Linked DNA regions of Homo sapiens: region 1 is reported to be linked to region 2. Evidence: microRNA targets listed by miRTarBase, many of them from high-throughput screens and not tested one by one. Region 2 holds a microRNA gene; the other region holds the end of a gene's coding sequence.

The links. The annotated mature microRNA hsa-miR-4320 reads GGGAUUCUGUAGCUUCCU and lies in region 2 at 3,227-3,244, shown strand. An mRNA with a match to its seed (bases 2 to 7 or 8) in the 3' UTR can be bound and repressed. Matches are read on the target gene's strand: a 7mer-m8 pairs with bases 2 to 8, a 7mer-A1 pairs with bases 2 to 7 and ends in A, and an 8mer does both.
Region 1: miRTarBase lists SUMO2 as a target of hsa-miR-4320. Seed matches in the 3' UTR shown: 7mer-m8 at 1,108-1,114.

The regions. Positions count from the first base shown.
Region 1 is chr17:75,163,684-75,168,905 of GRCh38, reverse strand. It overlaps SUMO2 (small ubiquitin like modifier 2), which reads left to right. Exons shown (of 4, transcript NM_006937.4): 4 at 505-3,320. The coding sequence ends at 567. Among named protein-coding and RNA genes, the nearest start is that of JPT1, 12 kb to the right of the region's middle.
Region 2 is chr18:50,124,531-50,129,752 of GRCh38, reverse strand. MIR4320 (microRNA 4320) reads left to right here and starts at 3,190; the gene lies at 3,190-3,254. The region is part of intron 1 of MYO5B (myosin VB); the gene reads left to right. RefSeq lists a silencer at 795-854 and an enhancer at 1,197-2,396.

The DNA.
Region 1 (5,222 bases), not on the chromosome of region 2:
TGGCTGGGCGCAGTGGCTCACACCTGTAATCCCAGCACTTTGGGAGGCCGAGGCAGGCAGATCACTTGAGCTCAGGAGTTTGAGACCAGCCTGGCCAACATGACGAAACCCCATCTCTACTAAAAATACAAAAAAATTAGCTGGGCATGGTGGCGGATGCCTGTAATCTCAGCTACTTGGGAGACTGAGGCAGGAGAATTGCTTGAACCTGAGGGGTGGACGTTGCAGTGAGCTGAGATCACGCCACTGCAGTCCAGCCTGGGTGACAGAAATCCTGTCTCAAAAAAAAAACAAAAAAGTTTTATCTAATAGTCATAAAAAAGGAAGCCAAGTGAAAAATTACTTAAACCAAGTGTGTTGATACATTAAGCTATGAGACATCTAAAATAATGAAACTTGGAACTTAGTGGAACATGTACATGTTTTCAGCATACTTAAACCCAAAAATCATTAATTTTCAGAACTTAATCAGTGCTTTTACATTTGTTTTTTCTTTTATGCTAGTTGGAAATGGAGGATGAAGATACAATTGATGTGTTCCAACAGCAGACGGGAGGTGTCTACTGAAAAGGGAACCTGCTTCTTTACTCCAGAACTCTGTTCTTTAAAGACCAAGATTACATTCTCAATTAGAAAACTGCAATTTGGTTCCACCACATCCTGACTACTACCGTATAGTTTTCTCTATTCTTTCATTTCCCCCTTCCCCATTCCTTTATTGTACATAAAGTAACTGGTATATGTGCACAAGCATATTGCATTTTTTTTTTTTTTAACTAAACAGCCAATGGTATGTTTTGATTGACATCAAGTGGAGACGGGATGGGGAAAAATACTGATTCTGTGAAAATACCCCCTTTCTCCATTAGTGGCATGCTCATTCAGCTCTTATCTTTATATTCCAGTAAGTTATTTTGCTCTCACTGTTTTAACAAAAAAAAAAAACAACAACATAAAAATCCTTGCATACCTTGTTCAATTGGAGAATTTTAATGTTTTTCATTTATCATTGTAAAACCAAGGACAATTTTATAACTTTTTTGTACGTAGCTGTTACATGTAGGGCAATCTGTCTTTAAGTAGGGATAAATTACTCTAAAACAAAAAAGAATCCTAGATAGTTTTCCCTTCAAGTCAAGCGTCTTGTTGTTTAAATAAACTTCTTGTTTAAAATGAGCTGTTTTCTTTATTCTGAGAAATATTAAATAGAAAATTGAGGCTTAGAAAAAACATAAATAGGCCTGCTTAGAAGTAACATTTCAAGAAGGAAATAAAGCTACTTGGTGTTTCTGACAGACTGATACTGATGCCAAACAAAGAATAACAGTTTTATAAATATCACCTTGTTCCAAAAGTTTCTCTAGGTCCCATGTTAATATGCAAGTATACTAGCAGAAAAATTGGGCCATAGTATCGTGGATTTCCAGGTATTTTCTGTATATTAAGTGAGGCACGGAGCATAGGGTATAGGGTAGCACATGTGGCAAGGAAAAAGTTCTGATTTTGCCTTTGTTGCTGATAAAACACTGAACCATTCTAGCCTGCACTTATCATAAGTAAATACTCCCTAACCTAAAATAAAGTTTTCGTTCCTTATTCAAGGATTTTTTTTTTGAGACGGAGTTTTCCTCTTGTTGCCCAGGCTGGAGTGTAGTGGTGCAATTTCAGCTCACTGCAACCTCAGCCTCCTGAGTAGCTGGGGGGTCATAGGTGCATGCCACCACGCCCAGCTAATTTTTTTTCTATTTTTAGTCGAGACAGGGTTTTATCACGTATGCCAGGCTGGTCTCGAACTCCTGACCTTAGGTGATCCACCCGCCTCAGCCTCCCAAAGTGCAGGGATTACGGCATGAGCCACCACGCCTGGCCTATTCAAGAATATTGAGGGACAGAAAATATCTATATATATCCATCCTCAGAACCTTAAATATACAGGTCACTACAGTCTTTATTATTTTAATTTTTGTTTCTTAGGGTTTCTTTTGGTGGTGGTTTTTTGAGATGGAGCATCATTCCGTCTCCCAGGCTGTAGTGCAGTGGCACAATCTTGGCTCACTGCAAGCTCCGCCTCCCGGGTTCACGCCATTCTCCTGCCTCAGCCTCCCGTCTTAGGTCTTTTTGAAAGAGGTTATGCCTCTGTTGCCTAGTCTGGAGTGGTGCAATGGTGTGATCTTGGCTCACTGCAACCTCCACCTCCAGGTCTTAAGAGATCCTCCCTGCTCAGCCTCGTGAGTAGCTAGAACCGCAGGTGCATGCCACCACAGCTAATTCTTGTATTTTTTATAGAGAGTGTTTCGCCATATTGTCCAGGCCGGGCTCAAACCCCTGATCTTAAGTGATCTATCTGCCTTAGCCTCCCAATGTGCTGGGTTTACAGGCGTGAGCCACTATGCCCAGCCCCTTTTTAATTTTTTAAAAATGTTTATTTTTGAGATGGAGTTTCGCTCTTGTTGCCCCAACTGGAGACCAATGACATGATCTCAGCTCACTGCAACCTCCGCCTCCCGGGTTCAACTGATTCTCCTCCCTCAGCCTCCGGAAAAGCTGGGATTACAAGCATCTACCATCATACCTGGCTAATTCTGTATTTTTAGTAGAGAAGGGGTTTCTCTATGTTGGTCAGGCTGGTCTCCACCTCCCGACCTCAGGTGATCTGCCTGCCTTGGCCTCCCAAAGTGCTGAGATTACAGGCTTGAGCCACTGTGCCCGGCCAAATTTTTATTATTTTTAAATTAGAGGTGGGGTCTCACCATGTTGACCAGTTTGGTCTCGAACTTCTGGCCTCAGTCCCTTGTCTTGGCCTCCCAAAGTGTTGGGGTTTCAGGTGTTAGACCCCATGCCCAACCACTACAGTTTTTGTTTTTGTTTTTGTTTTTTTTTCAGACGGAGTCTTGCTCTGTCGCCCAGGCTGGAGTGCAGTGGCGCAATCTTGGCTCACGGCAAGCTCCACCTCCCGGGTTCACGCCATTCTCCTGCCTCAGCCTCCCCAGTAGCTGGGACTAAAGGTGCCCGCCACCATGCCCGGCTAATTTTTTTGTATTTTTAGTAGAGACAGGGCTTCACCATGTTAGCCAGGCTGGTCTCAAACTCCTGACCTCAGTTCATCCACCCGCCTTGGCCTTCCAAAGTGCTGGGATTACAGGCATGATCCACTGCGCCCGGCCTCACTGCCATTTTATAGATGAGAAAGCCAAGTTCCAGAAAAGTTGTGAAATAGACGGTGACTATAAAACTGGGACTAGAGATAGTATCCTAATGCTTGTTGATTGTTTTTGTCCATACTGATTGTCAACCTACCAATATAATCTACCATCAAGTCACCATGTAGTATTATGTGTTATTTCTCTTAATCTGCTGTACCTTTGTTTTTTGTTTTTTTGAGACGGAGTCTTGCTCTGTTGCCCAGGCTGGAGTGCAGTAGCGCGATCTCGGCTCACTGCAAGCTGCCTCCCGAGTTCACGCCATTCTCCTGCCTCAGCCTCCTGAGTAGCTGGGAGTACAGGCACCCACCACCATGCCCGGCTAATTTTTTGTATTTTTAGTAGAGACGGGGTTTCACCGTGTTAGCCAGGATGGTCTCGATCTCCTGACCTCATGAGCTGCCCGCCTCAGCCTCCCAAAGTGGTGGGATTACAGGCGTGAGTCACCGCGCCCGGCTGCTGTACCTTTGTTTTGATACACTCTTTACATTCCCTGTTTCTATAGCAAATGAGCATTGCCAGTGACAACAGGAATGCAGTAGATTTTTCTTTATGTTTGTATATGTATGAATTTTACTCTTGAATCAGCTAGACTAATTTTCCTATATGTACAGTGCCACCAGCTTGTTTTTTTAAAATTTGTGGGGTTTTTTTGTTTGTTTGGTTTTGGAGACAGAGCCTCCCAAGTAGCTGGAATTACAGGCGCCCACCACTATGCCTGGCTGATTTTTTTGTATTTGTAGTAGAGACGGGGTTTCACTGTGTTGGCCAGGCTGGTCTCAAACTCCTGACCTCAGGTGATGCGCCTACCTTGGCCTCCCAAAGTGCTAGGATTACAGGCGGGAGCCACCGCGCCCTGTTTATTTTACTTTTTTTTTTGAGATGGAGTCTCACTCTGTTGCCCAGGCTGGAGTTCAGTGGCGCAATCTTGACTCACTGCAAGCTATGCCTCCCGGGTTCACGCCATTCTTCTGCATCAGCCTCCCGAGTAGCTGGGACTACAGGCACGCGCCACCATGCCCGGCTAGTTTTTTGTATTTTTTAGTAGAGACGGGGTTTCACTGTGTTAGCCAGTATGGTCTTGATCTCCTGACCTCGTGATCCGCCTGCCTCGGCCTCCCAAAGTGCTGGGATTACAGGCGTGAGCCACTGTGCCCGGCCTACTTTTTTTTTTTTTTTTTTTTTTTTTAATGGAGTCTTGTTCTGTCCCCCAGGCTGGAGTGCAGTGGCAGGATCTCAGCTCACTGCAACTTCCGCCTCCTGGGTTCAAGTGATTCTCCTGCCTCAGCCTCCCGAGTAGATGGGATTACAGGCGTGTGCCATCACACCTGGCTAATTTTTTATATTTTTGGTAGAGATGGGGTTTTACCATGTTGGCCAGGCTGGACTCGAACTCCTGACCTCAAGTGACCCACCCGCCTCAGCCACTCAAAGTGCTGGGATTACAGGAATGAGCCACCGTGCCCAGGCAATGTGTGTTTGAGATGCCTAGCATGGTGTCTCCCACATGTAAGTTGTCTTTTGTTTTTATCTTTTTTTTTTTCTTTTTCTGAGACAGAGTCTCACTGTCTCTTTGGTACCCTAAGAAGCAAAGCATCCATCTACAGGATGAGTTAGAGTTCTGATTATCTAAATGGTGACTTGAAAGTTACTGCTGGTTGTGGTAGGAAATAGAGGCATACCTCACAGGGACTACGGGCTTGGTCCCAGACTGCAGCACTACAATAAAGAAGTCATCTCAATAAAACGAGTCACACAAATTTTTTGGTTTTTCAGTGCATATAAAAGTTATGTTCAGCCCTGGCAATATAGTGAGACCCTGTTTCTACAAAAAATAAAAGCCAGGTGCAGTGGTGCATGCCTGTAGTTCCAGCTACTCTGAAGGCTGAGGTGAGAAGATTGCCTGAGCTCGGGGGGAGGCCGAGGCTGCAATGAGCTGTGATCGCGCCACAGCAGTCCAGCTATGTTGACGGGGTAAGACCCTGTCTTGGAAAAAAAAAAGTTTATATTGTAGTCAGGTAT
Region 2 (5,222 bases):
AAAAGGGCTCAGGTTTTGGGATCTAGATTCTTGCCTGGACTCAGATTCCAGCTCTGCTACTCCCTAGGGACCTCGGGCAAGTTATTCCACTTCTTCACATTTAGTTTCCTCATCTGCAAAATGGAGATGATGTTTCATAGGGCTGTGGGAATTAAAGAAGTTACTACAGAAAGGCTCTAGGAAATGGGCTGGCGTATGGTGAGGTGTCTGTAAGTACAGCTGTTATGATCACATCTCTGGTATTAGCTCGTGGATCATTTGCCTGCATTCCTTAAATCAGAATGCTGGACAAGAGCTCCAGTGATTTGAGTTTTCTGCCTTATCGGAGTTCATTTCCTGTTTCCTTTCATGGAATATATATGGTGTTTTAGTTACATTGGTGGCATGACAATTAATATAGGGCAGAAGCTTGTCTGTTGAAGTTCCCTTGAGGAGAAAGGGATGCCCTGGGTTTGTGGTAAGTGTGCTGTGTGGACAGCATTTGCTGGAGTCTATGGGATTGTAAATGTGAGATAAGCTCTAGCTCCAGCTCCAGGAATTGCTGTACTGGGAAGTCCCTGCCCTCTCCACAGTCCTGCTTGGGCCCAGCCCTCCATCCCTCTCCGTCCATCAGGCCATGCTCCCACCACCGTGGGGCCTGGCCTGGGCTCCTTTCACATCACTGAGCATTCCCTGCCACCTCATTCTCCTGAGCCGGCTCTGACAGCCCTGCATTAAGCAGTGACTTACCGTGAGATTTGGCAGGTGGTTCTTCTGTGATTTTAATTAGGCCCTGGGTGTGTTTTGTGAAGGTGATCCTCTGCGGGTTTGTCAATAAAAAGCCTGCTTTTCCAGCCGGCAGCCGCTGATTGGGTATTCTGAGGCTTCACACCAAAGCAGTTTCTGGTGGAAGGTGGTTTCCCCCTTCTCACTGGGCCACTTCCTCCTCCAATGTTCTTTCACATTTTATCCTCACATTCCTTCTGGTACGCATGTCACAGGGAGGGAAACTGAGACCCGGAGGGCTTGAGTGACAGACTGGGGATGTGTAAAGGATCTCGGATTCTTAGGTGCTGGCACGTGGCCTTCTCCCTGGGCTCTTTGGCCTTTGTACCTGGGCAGGGTGCAGAACTGCTCTCCGAGCTGTTGATAAATCCAAGGGAGTGTGAGAGTCCTCTGTTCTCAAGGCACGAGAGACTTCCTGTCACTGAGCTAGGCGCTGCTATCGCACCCCACATGTCTTCTCCTACCTGGACAGGTATATGCTGCTGGCCTCCTGGGCTCCAGGCTTTTCTACGCTTATCCATGTGGGATCACTTCTCCTAAACTCTGCTTTTGTGTGATTCTCAAGATCACAGGCACCCCATCTACCTGTGTGGAGGGTCATGTTCAGAATCCATCAGCTGTTCTCAGATCAGCTGTTGCACCTCACAGTCCTCATTCCTGTTTGTTCTCTCTCCCCCTTCAAAGCCATTTTCTCATGGCCTTCCTATTCTCTCATTTTTTCACATCTTCGCTTTTCATTCAATTTCTTAGACTTCTGGAAGCTTTCCTCCCCTTTTACTCTCTGCCAAACCAATAGTAGTGTATTAGGATTCTCTAGAGAAAGATAACTATAGGAAATACACATATTTATATATTATGGAATTACTCACACAATTACAGAGGCCAACAGGTCCTAAGATCTGCATTCAGCAAGCTGGAAACCCAGGAGAGCTGATGGTGTAGTTCCAGGCTGAGTCCAAAGGCCTGAGAACCAGCAGAGTCAGTGGTGTAAGTTCCAAAAGCCAGCAGGCTTGAGACCTGGAAAGAGCTCATGTCTCAGTTTGAGTCTGAAGGTGGGAAAAATAGCAGTGTCCCAGCTCAAACAGGCAGGGTTCCCTTTTACCCAGACTTTTTGTTCTAATTGGGTTTTCAACTGATTGCATGAGGCCCACCCGCAGTGGGGAGGGCAACCTGCTTTACTCAGTCGACTGACTCAGATGTTAACCTCATCTAGAAACAGCTTCATGGACACACCCAGAATAGTGCTTGGCCAAATGTGTGGGCACCCAGTGGCCACATAAGTTGACACATAAAATTGATCATCCCAGTAAGCAATCTTTAAAGCCCCACCTAAATCCCACCTCTTCCGTGAGGTTTTCCCTGATTACATCAACTTACACTTGACTGGCTTAGCTGGATTCCTCTACCTTTTATGCGCTCCACCAGGGCTCAGCAATTAGTGGTACCTGCCCCTCCATTGTTCTCTTTCAGCTGAGGACTCCTTACCTCCTCTACCAGGTGTGAAGGGTGGCAGATACCATGAGTTTGACCACTCTTGTCTTCCCTGTAATGTAGAGCACTGCATCTGTTGTAGGTGCTCAGTAAAAGCTTGTTCTCTTAGCCCAGTTTTCCAGTAGATAAAGTGAAGCGTTCAAAACTTGGCTGCTGGGATTACAGACCAAGATGATGGGCTTGGAGAACCTGGGTTCTTGGTTCCTACAGGCACTAGAAGAAAGGATGGCCAGTATCTGGTATATAATAGGTGCCCAAATATGGTTGAGATGCTAGAAATTTTCATCAAATGCTTTTGAATTATCGTAAGTGCCACAGTGTGGTGGGAAGAGTAGGGGGCTCTAACTAGCAATGTAAACTCAAGCAACTTGCTCTTCCTTTGCCTCAATTGCCTATGTTAACTGGGGGCAGTTTGATCTTGCCCCACCTGCCTCTTGGGTCTTATGAGGTTGGAATAAGGTAATAATGATTATGAGAATAACAGCTAACTCTCTATGTGGCAAGGATTGTTCTAAAAAATACTTTTTAAAAACTTGCTTTTTTCTGTGACACTAACCAATGAATTGTAAAAACTTCCTGTATGTCAGCTCATTTAATAACCCTATTTTACAATGAGATGCTGAGATTCAGAGATCTAGTAACTTGCCCAAGGTTACAGAGCCAGAGAGCAGCAGGGCTGGGATTCAAGCCCAGGAAGTCTGGCTTCACCATGCATGCTCTTCACTGCCATAGTGTGCTAGAAGATGGTGTGAAAATGCATTGGAGGCTTGGAGAGCTGTGCTGCTGTTCTGAGACCCATTTGATCAGGTCCTGGAGATGATTCACGCATGACTGCTGTTCACTAGGGAGTTTGCTAGAGCTTGGACCACGTATGAATTGAGAGCAGGAATGTGTGCAAGCTCTTGACTTGTCAAGGCCTTTGCTCACCAGAGTGACATGTGGGGTTTGCTGTAGACATTTCAGATAACTCGGGATTCTGTAGCTTCCTGGCAACTTTGCCCTGACAGCCCCCACTTTGTGGTCCCCTGTGATTTGCCCTCTTAGCTCCATTCTTCACTTTGTGGTCTCTGCCTTAATTGAATTAAAAGATGGTTGATGTGTCTCCCCAGTGGAATGCAGGTTCTATCAGGGCAGGGCTAGAGGCTGTTTTGTTCACTACTGTGTCTCTAGTGTCCAGTGTGGTGTTTGGTCTGGCCAGGGGTGCCCACATCTGGAAAATAAGCATTATAGTAAAGGACCTGTTTCCCTGTTTCAGGGTTGTTTGTTTTTATTATGGTAAAATATAAGTAAAATTTACTGTTTTTTAACTTTTAAACATTTTTTAGTTGTGGTAAAATACACATAACAATTTACCATTTTAACCATATTTTCACCATTTTTCAGTATACAGTTCAGTGGCATTAAGTACGTTCACATTGTGTGCAATCACGACCACCATCCAAGAACTTTTTCATTATCCTAAACAGAATCTCTGCACCCATTAAACAGTAACCCCTTCCTCGCAGCCCCTGGCACCCACCAGTCTACTTTCTGTCTCTATGGATTTGCCTCTTCTAGGTCCCTCATGTAAGTGGAGTCATACAGTCTTGTCCTTTTCTGGCTTATTTCTCTTAGCATAGCATCCTGAAGGTTCATCCATGTGATAGTATGTGTTAGAATTTCCTTCCCTTTTAAGGCTAATAATAATGAATTGTATGGATAGTCTGCTTGTTGATCCACTGATCTGTGAATATTTGGGTTGTGTCTACCTTTTGTCTATTGTGATGAATGTGTCTGTGAACTTGGTATACAGCTATCTGTTTGAATTCCTGCTGTTGATTCTCTCAGTTACATTCCTAGAAGTAGAATTGCTGAATCATCATAGGGTCATTTTGAAGATTGAATAACCTAGTATTTGAACTGTTCCTGACACATAGCAAGCACTATATATGAGTGTTTGCTAAATAAGACTTTTCTTTCTTTTTATTATTATTACTATTATACTTTAAGTTGTAGGTTACATGTACACAACGTGCAGGTTTGTTACATATGTATAAATGTGCCATGTTGGTGTGCTGCACCCATTAACTCGTCATTTACATTAGGTATATCTCCTAATGCTATCCCTTCCCCCTCCCCCCACCCCACAACAGGGTCCGGTGTGTGATGTTCCCCACCCTGTGTCCAAGTGTTCTCATTGTTCAATTCCCACCATGAGTGAGAACATGCGGTGTTTGGTTTTCTTTCCTTGCGACAGTTTGCTCGGAATGATGGTTTCCAGCTTCATCCATTGATGCATCTCTTAACATTCATTGTTCAGTTTGATATTTAGAAAGGTGTGCAGCATAGTGCCCTTGAGAAAGAGAAGCTGTAAAGGTAGGTTTGCGCTCTGTTCAATACCATTCAAATGGCTTGGAGACCCTGGGGCTTGTGCCAGGCCTTGCAGTCAGCAGGGGTACCATCTGTGGCAGGCTCCCCAAAAGTAGGGCTAGGAGTCAGGGTGGGCTTGGTTTCTGAAGACTTCTGCTCCAGCTGCTTATATCCAGTCCTTGATTTGAGTCTGGTTTCCATACTGTAGTCTCTTTATTGATCCTTGCAGCCTCTGTCCTCTCCCAGTCTGGGGAAATTAAAGTGGGGCTTCCCAATTCTTATGTTGTTATCTGCAGTTTATTAAGAAAGACTGTACACATTCCTGAAATAAGTTGACGCTTAAAAATAACATATACTTTTCAAAATGATCAAGCGGGGTGGGGCGGGGGGAGAGATGTGTCAATTGCAAGCAGTGATGTGGAGTTACTGATAGGAAGGGCACCAGGGGGGAAAGATTTCACTTTGCTCACAGCAGGTTTATGCATATTCCAGATGAGGGATTTGCACAGGGATTCTATGCAGGCTATACATGTCTTTCCTTCTGGTTCCAAAGCATTTTCTAGTTACAGGGTATTATTCTTCAAAAGTTTTTTGTTGTTGTTGTTTTCTTTTTTTTC